Regions from separate parts of the Homo sapiens genome. Here region 2 is linked to region 1. The links come from fine-mapping of genetic effects on gene expression. A gene starts in region 1. The other region holds a variant in brackets. All regions are shown on one strand. Distances are from middle to middle.

The links. PIP is the estimated chance that this variant, and not a neighbour inherited with it, causes the effect.
Region 2: its variant is the best candidate, but not a certain one, in a credible set for the expression of THRSP in kidney cortex (GTEx, PIP 0.54).

What each region holds. Positions count from the first base shown.
Region 1 is chr11:78,061,306-78,065,698 of GRCh38, reverse strand. THRSP (thyroid hormone responsive) reads right to left here and starts at 1,838. Exons shown (of 2, transcript NM_003251.4): 1 at 1,358-1,838. The coding sequence starts at 1,817. The coding sequence ends at 1,377. All of the region lies in intron 1 of NDUFC2-KCTD14 (NDUFC2-KCTD14 readthrough), which reads left to right.
Region 2 is chr11:78,098,190-78,102,582 of GRCh38, reverse strand. ALG8 (ALG8 alpha-1,3-glucosyltransferase) reads left to right here. Exons shown (of 13, transcript NM_024079.5): 13 at 1,388-1,637. The coding sequence ends at 1,619. Among named protein-coding and RNA genes, the nearest start is that of NDUFC2-KCTD14, 21 kb to the right of the region's middle. The variant A/T (reference allele first, on the strand shown) is at 2,718.

The DNA of each region.
Region 1 (4,393 bases):
TCTTACTTTTGTCTCCTTACTGTGTGACTTTGGGTGAGTCACTTCACCTCTCTGGCTTCAATTTCCATACTAGTAAACTGGGGATGAGAATCTTTTCCTACATAGCTGCATCAGGTGGTTTTGAGATTGCAATGGACGTGGATGTTGTTTACAACTAATGAGACCAGTTTGTGGGAGCAGGGCTGGCAGGTGGCACAGAATCAAAACTGGCAGGTGCTGTGGTCCAATTTCTATTAATACTAGTCTTTATCCATGAGTGAACTAGTGGTGACCATGCTAGGGCCCCTTCCCACCTCCTACCCTCTGCCACCACCTGCTTGTCTAGCTTGCTGCTCATCCACACTCACCACCCCAGCCCCTCTGTGCATAGACATGTAGGCTTAGACTGGAACACATATTCATATGTACATACAACAGGGCTTCCCAACAGGCATGTCTGCATACTCCAGTTTGCCTGGAATGGATTAGAGTGCCATGACTGGTCCCTCGGCTTCCCGTTTGGTGGGTTCCAACCTGGGATGGTCAGAGTACCCCCAGCCTGTTGTAGCAGTACTGCAAGCAGCCTCACCTATGTATCCCCATGTGCCATATAATAATTTTCCATGTTCTGTGACTTGAAAAAATGTTGGGAAACACTGTCACACAAATGGAATTCACAATGTTCACTTAAATCAATGTGCATGCCTTAGGTAAGTTTTTTTTTTTTTTTTGAGATGGAGTCTCCCTCTGTCACCTAGGCTGGAGTGCAGTGGCACAATCTCAGCTCACTGCAACCTCTGCCTCCCAGGTTCATGCCATTCTCCTGCCTCAGCCTCCCGAGTAGCTGGGACTACAGGCACCCACCACCACGCCCAGCTAATTTTTTGTATTTTTAGTAGAGATTGGGTTTCACCATGTTAGCCAGGATGGTCTCAATCTCCTGGCCTCATGATCCGCCCGCCTCGGCCTCCCAAAGTGCTTTGGTGTGAGCCACCGCGCCTGGCCCCTCTTCAATTAAATTCTTAACAAAGTCACTGATGAGAACACACTCATTCAATTCACACATTTACAAGCATTCACATACTAATAAATGCACACATGCACAAACACATATATGTGCATATGAGATATGCCCTCACAGGCCACTTTTCCCTCTGTTTCCATATCACTTCATTGCAATTGCCAATTTGAGGTCAGAAGGATAGTAACACAGGCCTAGTCTTAGGCCCTCCTAGGTTGTGGTCCCAATACCCTGACCCAAGAGTGGCTCTGTCTGAAAGTCAGGCTGTTCCTCTCCCAGTGGGTTGCACCACTGCCCCCTCTCCTCTCCTGGAATGTCCCTTTGTAGACTCACACCCACCAGCATGGCCACCATTACCTTCCCTAGTGTCCAAGGTCTACCAAACTTGTCCCGTCATTTCCTGGTATTTCCTTGTCACCTCCTGGGCTTTCTCGGTGAGGTGCATGAGGATGTGATGGAGGCTGGAGAAGTGCAGGTGGAACTGGGCTTCCAGGTCCAGCTCTCCTGAGGCACTCTCGTCCTCGACTTCCTCTGTCTCTGCGGTTCCATTCTCTTCGCTGCCTGCCACCTTGGCCTGCCACTCCTCCCGCGGCAGCAGCCCATGGTCCACATCCACACAGATGGCCTTGAGCATGGTGAAGTAGGTGTAGAGATCAGGGGCCTCAGCCTGGGCCTGGCCCCCAGGCCCACTCAGCTGCACGTCCCGCAGAAGGCTGGGGATCATCACCACCTGCTCCATGTTGTGCACCTCGGCTGCATACCGGTCCATGACGGTCAGCAGGCAGTTCTTGGGGTAACGCTTGGTTAGCACCTGCATGGTTGCTTCCTCTGACACAATGAGACCAGCAGACTGCCCCCGCACTATTTCTAGGCTCTCGGCAGATTGACAGGATGCCAATGCCCAGCTGTTGGGTCAACACAGCCCTGTTTTGGGCCAATCCCAGGGCTCAGGCCCCAGCATCTGTATCAGGTGATCCATCTGCCCAGAGACAGATCTGCCAGCCTTCTACTTGTCATCCCAGCTCTGCATGACTGCCCCAGCAAGAACCCGACTCTTCCTCTGTCAGCTTGCTGAGCCAGTTGGAAGGAAGCTTTTCCCTTTGGCAACTGGTATACTGGACTTCAGGGCAATAAATAATTCTTTCAGGTCACTGGAGACCAAGCTGTCTCTTTGCTGCCTGCTTAGGGCAGCCCTCCAAAGCACAGTTCACTCCTTCAACCTGGGGTGACTCCATTGTGAAATGGAGAGGATTTGAAGTGAAACAGCTTGATGTGGGGCAAGGAACACTGAGGTTGGAGTCAGAAGCCCAGTACTGCAATTTCCTAGCTGAGTTTTTTTTTGTTTGTTTTTTGCTGGCTAACATTTATTGAGCACCTACTGCACATCAGGGTCTGCTGAGCTTTTTCGTGAGTGATCTCATTTAATCTTCACCACAACCCTTGTAAATGTTTTATTTATTTAATTTTTGTAGAGATGGTCTTGCTATGTTGCCCAGTCTGGTTTTGAACTTCTGGACTCAAGCAATCCTCCCACCTCAGCCTCCCAAAGTGCTGGAATTGCAGGTGTGAACCACCAGTATTCCTGTTTTGCCAGTGAGGAAATTTAGGTGCAGACAGCTAAAGTAACTTGCTCAAGGTCCCACTGGGGCTGGGATTCCAGCCCAGGACCACCTCTACCCACCTCCAGGCAGTGCTGTGGACTGACATGAGGTTACATAGTCATACAAGTTAACCAGATCCATATCCTCTGTAAATTTGAGGTGGTGTGAGGATTGAATAAGACAAACTAATAAAAATGCTTTGTATCAGTCCAGACAAGCGGCTGGGATCAAAAGAGGAAAAAAAATGCTTTGTAAACCACAAAGCCCAATCCTCAGATGTATTATCTATGCAGATTCTAGATTATTGCTAAGGCTTCTCCCAAATCTAACCAGTCATTCCATAAGCTACAATGCTTCCACTTTATTACTGACCTTTCCTTGGACCAGCAGTCTTGGAAGATAATAATCTTTTGCGTGGTCATATTGTCATAGTTTACAAACTGCATTTGCTATATATTTTTTATTAGATATTTAAGAAAATGGCCGGGCGCAGTGGCTCACGCCTGTAATCCCAGCACTTTGGGAAGCCCAGGCGGGTGGATCACGAGGTCAGGAGATCGAGACCATCTTGGCTAACGTGGTGAAACCCTGTCTCTACTAAAAATACAAAAAATAAGCCGGGCGTGGTGGTGGGCGCCTGCAGTCCCGGCTACTCGGGAGGCTGAGGCAGTAGAATGGCGTGAACTCAGAAGGTGGAGCTTGCAGTGAGCCGAGATGATGCTGCACCACTGCACTCCAGCCTGGGCAACATAGCGAGACTCCGCCTCAAAAAAAAAAAAAGAAAAAGAAAAGAAAAGAAAATGAAGGCCTGGGGAAAGGCCCAAAGTTGCACAACAAGTTAGTGGCAGAGTCAAGTGGAGAATAAGACATTCTGAATTCTGGCTCAGGTACCTGCCTCCTCCACTGCCTCTGGTGAAATCTGCTGAATGATGATACCTCCCACGCCTGCAGGAGAGGAGAGAGGAGGAGGGAGCACAGGGAGGGGACGTGGGGCTGAACAGGGCCTCTGTGTTGTCTCACCTAAGCCACCCTCACCTCCACCCTAGGGCAGGAGCCCACTCTGCACCCTCCCAACTGACAATCATTCACTCCTCTGCTCCCTCCCACTACAGCCAGAGCTATGAAAAAGCTTATCTTTAGACTGAACAAAATTCCGCCTCCCAGCCCGGCATGGTGGCTCATGCCTGTAATCCCAGTACTTTGGAAGGCTGAGGCAGGAGGATCATTTGAACCCAGTAGTTTGAGACCAGCATGGGCAACATATGAGACCCTATCTCTACAAAAAATTAATTTTAAAAAATCAGCTGGGTGTGATGGCACATATCTGAGGTCTCAGCTACTCAAGTGGCTGAGGTGGGAGGATTGCTTGAGCCCGGGAGGTCAAGGCTGCAGTGAACTGTGATGGCACCACTGCACTCTGGCCTGGGTGACACAGCAAGACCCTGTCTCGAAAAAAAAAGAAAAAGAAAAAAATATTCTACTTCCCTATAACCCCTCCCCTTTAAATTGTAATATTTACCCCACCCAGAGTTACTGGCCTTAACTATGCTTATGTTGGCACAGCAGAGTGGTGTGCCAACTCAGTTTCCACAGGGGCCCTGAGACAGAAAAACATAAGTATCCCAAGATAAAACTGAGACAAAACTGAGACTCAGAAAGGGAGAGGTACTTGCCCAAGGTCTCATAGCTCGGACATGACAGGAGTAGGCCTGCCCTAGTTCCATCAGACCTGAGAGGAAAGCAGTGATCTTCCCTCTTGTCAAGTCCCCTTGGCAGGCTGGCCATGCATAGC
Region 2 (4,393 bases), 37 kb before region 1:
ATGTGACCCAGCAATTCCACCCCTATACCCAAAAGAATGGAAACAGGGACTCAACAGATACTTGTACATCAGTATTCATTGTAGCATTATTCATACTAGCTAAAAGATGGAAACAACCCAATGTCCATCAACAAATACATGATAAAGTGTGATATATACATATAGTGGATTATTCAGCCAAAGAAAAGAATGAAGTTCCAATACATGCTACATGAATGAATCTTGAAAACATGCTAAGTGAAAGAAACGAGAGAATAGAACAAATATCATATCGTTCCACTGATAGGAAATTCTAGAATAAACAAACATAGAGACAGAAAGTAGATTAGAGGTTGAGGGAACAGGGGGATGGGAAGTTATTGTTAATGGTTCCAGAGTTTCTGTTTGGGGTCACGAAAATATTTTGAAGGTGGATAGTGGCGATGGGCGCATATTATTGATCTACTTAATACCATCAAACTGTATACTTAAAAATGGTTAAACAAATAGCAAATTTCATGTTATATATATTTTACCAAAATAAAAAATATTTTAAAAATCTGGTGAAACCTTGTCTCTATAGAAAATACAAAAATTAGCTGGGCATGGTGGCAGGCGCCTGTAATCCCAGCTACTTGGGAGGCTGAGGCAAGAGAATCGCTTGAACCCAGGAGGTGGAGGTTGCAGTAAGCTGAGATTGCACCACTGCACTCCAGTCTGGGTGACAGAGCAACGCTCCATCTCAAAAAGAAAATTTTTTTTAAATCTTCAATTCTATATTGTTTCTCATGTTCTTATTCCAATGTCACAGCACCCAACCCCTTTACCTCTTTCAAATGCAGAACTAATTCTCTCTGAGCAGCTTGAGCTAAATAACAGCATAGGTCAATGGTGGAGTAAATTTAGATTGTTGAGATAATATAACGTATATAATTATCATTTTTTTCTAAATGTGAAACTTATTTTTTATTTTTATTTATTTTTTGAGACAGAGTCTCACTCTGTCGCCCAGGCTAGAGTGCAGTGGTGCCATATCGACTCACTGCAACCCAGTTAAAGCAGTTCTCCTGCCTCAGCCTCCCAAGTAGCTGGAATTACAGGCCTGTGCCACCCTGGTCGGCTAATTTTTGTATTTTTAGTAGAGATGGGGTTTCTCCATGTTGGCCAGGTTAGTCTAGAACTCCTGACCTCAGGTGATCCACCTGCCTTGGCCTCCCAAAGTGCTGGGATTACAGGCATGAGCCTCTGCACTTGGCCCTAAATGTGAAATTTAATATACTCTTGACTCTGGCCTTGGCTATAATAATTGACAGCAAGACAGTGCAGATGGGGAAGCTTTAGCTAGGAAATGTTTGCTAAACCAGGATGACTCATCTAAAATCAGACTTTTCTCTCTTTTTTCCTTCAGAAAAGAAAAACCTCTTTTTAATTGGATGGAAACTTTCTACCTGCTTGGCCTGGGGCCTCTGGAAGTCTGCTGTGAATTTGTATTCCCTTTCACCTCCTGGAAGGTGAAGTACCCCTTCATCCCTTTGTTACTAACCTCAGTGTATTGTGCAGTAGGCATCACATATGCTTGGTTCAAACTGTATGTTTCAGTATTGATTGACTCTGCTATTGGCAAGACAAAGAAACAATGAATAAAGGAACTGCTTAGATATGTGCCAAGCAATTATTTCATGGGAAATTAACCAGAACTTGAAGAAAGTTGCCAGTGGCATCAGCCATTTGTTTCAGTAGAACTGTTCAGAGCACCATTCTTCCACACTTGGTCTTGCCCAGCCTAGCAACCGGATTGTCACCATGGTGAGAAGCCACTGGCCCTCCATAAGCACTGAAACACATCTGAAAAAAACTCACCTTTCCCTATTAAAATTGTCTGAGATCGTTCAGACTGCTGTGCTTGCTCAAGCCAAACAGGGAATCTGATTAACCGCATAATTATTTGTAGCCTATGCTAACCATTGTGAGGATATAAAGCATAATTAGAATCCTGTGCTAAGGAAATATAAATGAAATGCTATTTTGTATGCACAAAAAAACTTCTGGATCGTTACCAGCTCCTACATTTTCCTCTTGGCGTGTACACAGGCAGATGGTGTACTGTCCCCATTCTGTACACCTTGTTCGAGATTTTTTTTGTTTGAAATTATACAGTGACAATACTCACAAAGCCAAGGGGAGTAGTTAAGGTACTGGTTTGGCCAGGCAGCAGAAACTACAAACCACAGCTACTTTACATTGATTTAAGGATATCTCGTGCAGCTCATTTATTCTAACAGCAAGCACTGCAGTTTTTATAAGGCAGCCACTTAAACCTTTCATCATGCGCAGGAACTGAAGTGATTTTTGCAGTCTGGTTCTTATCCTTTCCCTTCCTTAAGAGTACTTCATATACGCTTTTTATCCAGGACCCCAATTTGTGTAATATCTGCCACACATTCAGATTCAGCCAACGTTTATCTAGTCAACAGTAGGAACTTTCACACATTTTATTTTATTTCTATTTTTTTTCAGCCCTCAGGCAGAATTCATACATTTTATTTACCCATTATCCCCTAAGATCAGAGAGACTCCAAGGTCAATGGCATTCTGAGATGGAATCCAGTTATTCCATCTCTTCCGTCTACTCCATTTTCTAAGACTTCTTTTTGGTCTGTTATTGCAGAGACAAAGATGGGGATCTTGCCAAAGGGGGAGGGAAGCGTAGCGCCTCTAACCTGTTTTCCTGCCCACAG[A/T]CTCTCCTCCACCCTGTGTTCCAGCTGGCCTAACAACTTCAAACTCCCCGTGTGCCATGCTGTCTTGTACCTCTGTTCCCTTTCATTCATGCTGCTTCCTCTCCTCTCTGCTGACTTCTACCCTGTCATCTGATTATATGAACCTCTTCAAGATTCAGCTTAACTGCTACCATGTCTGTCAATATAAAGGCAGAATGGTGTAGTGATTAAGAGTAGGGCCTTAAAGTCGTATGTCCTGGTTGTAAATCTTGCCTCCATCATTTTTTTTAAAATCTGTAGGCAGGTTATTTAACCATCTTTTATCTGAATGTTCTCATCTCTAAAATGATTACATAAAAGATTAAGAACACTGCCTGATGCATTTTAAGTGCTCGGTCAATAGCATTGCTATTTATGTGAATCTTTTCCTATCCCTCTACCTTCCCTCCTCCTGCAGAATTGAGTTGCTCCCACTGTGCCAGGAGTCTGCTGATACCATTAACTGCTGTAATACTGTGTTATGCTTGTTTACCTCTTTTCCCCAGGAGACTAGCAGTTTGAGACCACACTTGTCTTCATAGCCCCAGTTTTTAGCACAGTTGAATGAATGAATGAAGCACACCAAACCAGCCATGATTAAAACCTAAATATTTTACTAGTACAAGCATTAACACAAAGGACCAGTATAGTTCCTCACGTCTTTGCTGTTGTCCAAGCCAAAAAAAAAAAAAAGTAGAAGATGAATTTGGATGGATTTCAACCTGACCAAATTTACTTTTTTGGTTGTTATTATGAAAGTGATGTGATGTCAGAACGGGAAGAGCTCATCTAGTGTAGGGATTTCCAGAATGTTCTGTAGAGCACTGGAGGTTCTTCAGTGTTGCCTCAGAGGCCCTGGGCTCTGTCCATAGTAAATAGCTTTGATCTGTTTCATATATTCACATGGCTTCATATACATTTTCATTTGACTTCAAAGTCCAAATATAGCCTTAAAGCAGTTCAGCTGAGCACAGTGACCCACACTTGTAATCCCAGCACTTTGGGAGCCTGAGGCAGACAGATCACTTGAGCCCAGGAGTTCAAGACCAGCCTGGGCAACATAGTGAGACCCTTTGTCTACAAAAAATCAAAAAATTAGCCAAGCCTGGTGACATGCGCTGTAGTCCCAGCTACTCAAGAGACTGAGGTGGGAGGATCACTTGAATCCTGGAAGTCGAGGCTAAGTGAGCTGTGTTCACACCACTGTATTCCAGACTGGGGAAGTAAGCAAGACCCTGTCTCAAAAAAAAAAAAAAAAAAAAAAAAAAGTCAATGTCTTATATTACCGGGAGGGAAATGGCTCCAGACTCTGAAGAATACCTTGTTGGTGCCAACACAGACTAGAATCTAGACTTTTTGTCTAGAGCCCAAGATTCTTTTATTCTTTTCCAAACACTATACTTTGTAATCATGTTTTAAAACTTTACAGAGATATGGGTGGTTTTCAACAACAAATTCCTAAATTTCAGTCAATAAATGAAGTGCTGGTGGCGTGTGGTGGCTCATAGCGCTTTGGGACACCGAGGCAGGAGGATCACTGGAGTCCAGGAGTTCAAGACCAGCCTGGGCAACATAGTGAGACCTGTCTCTACAAAAATAAAAATTAGCCAGGCGTGATGGCCCGTGCCTGTAATCTCAGCTACTCAGGAAGCTGAAGT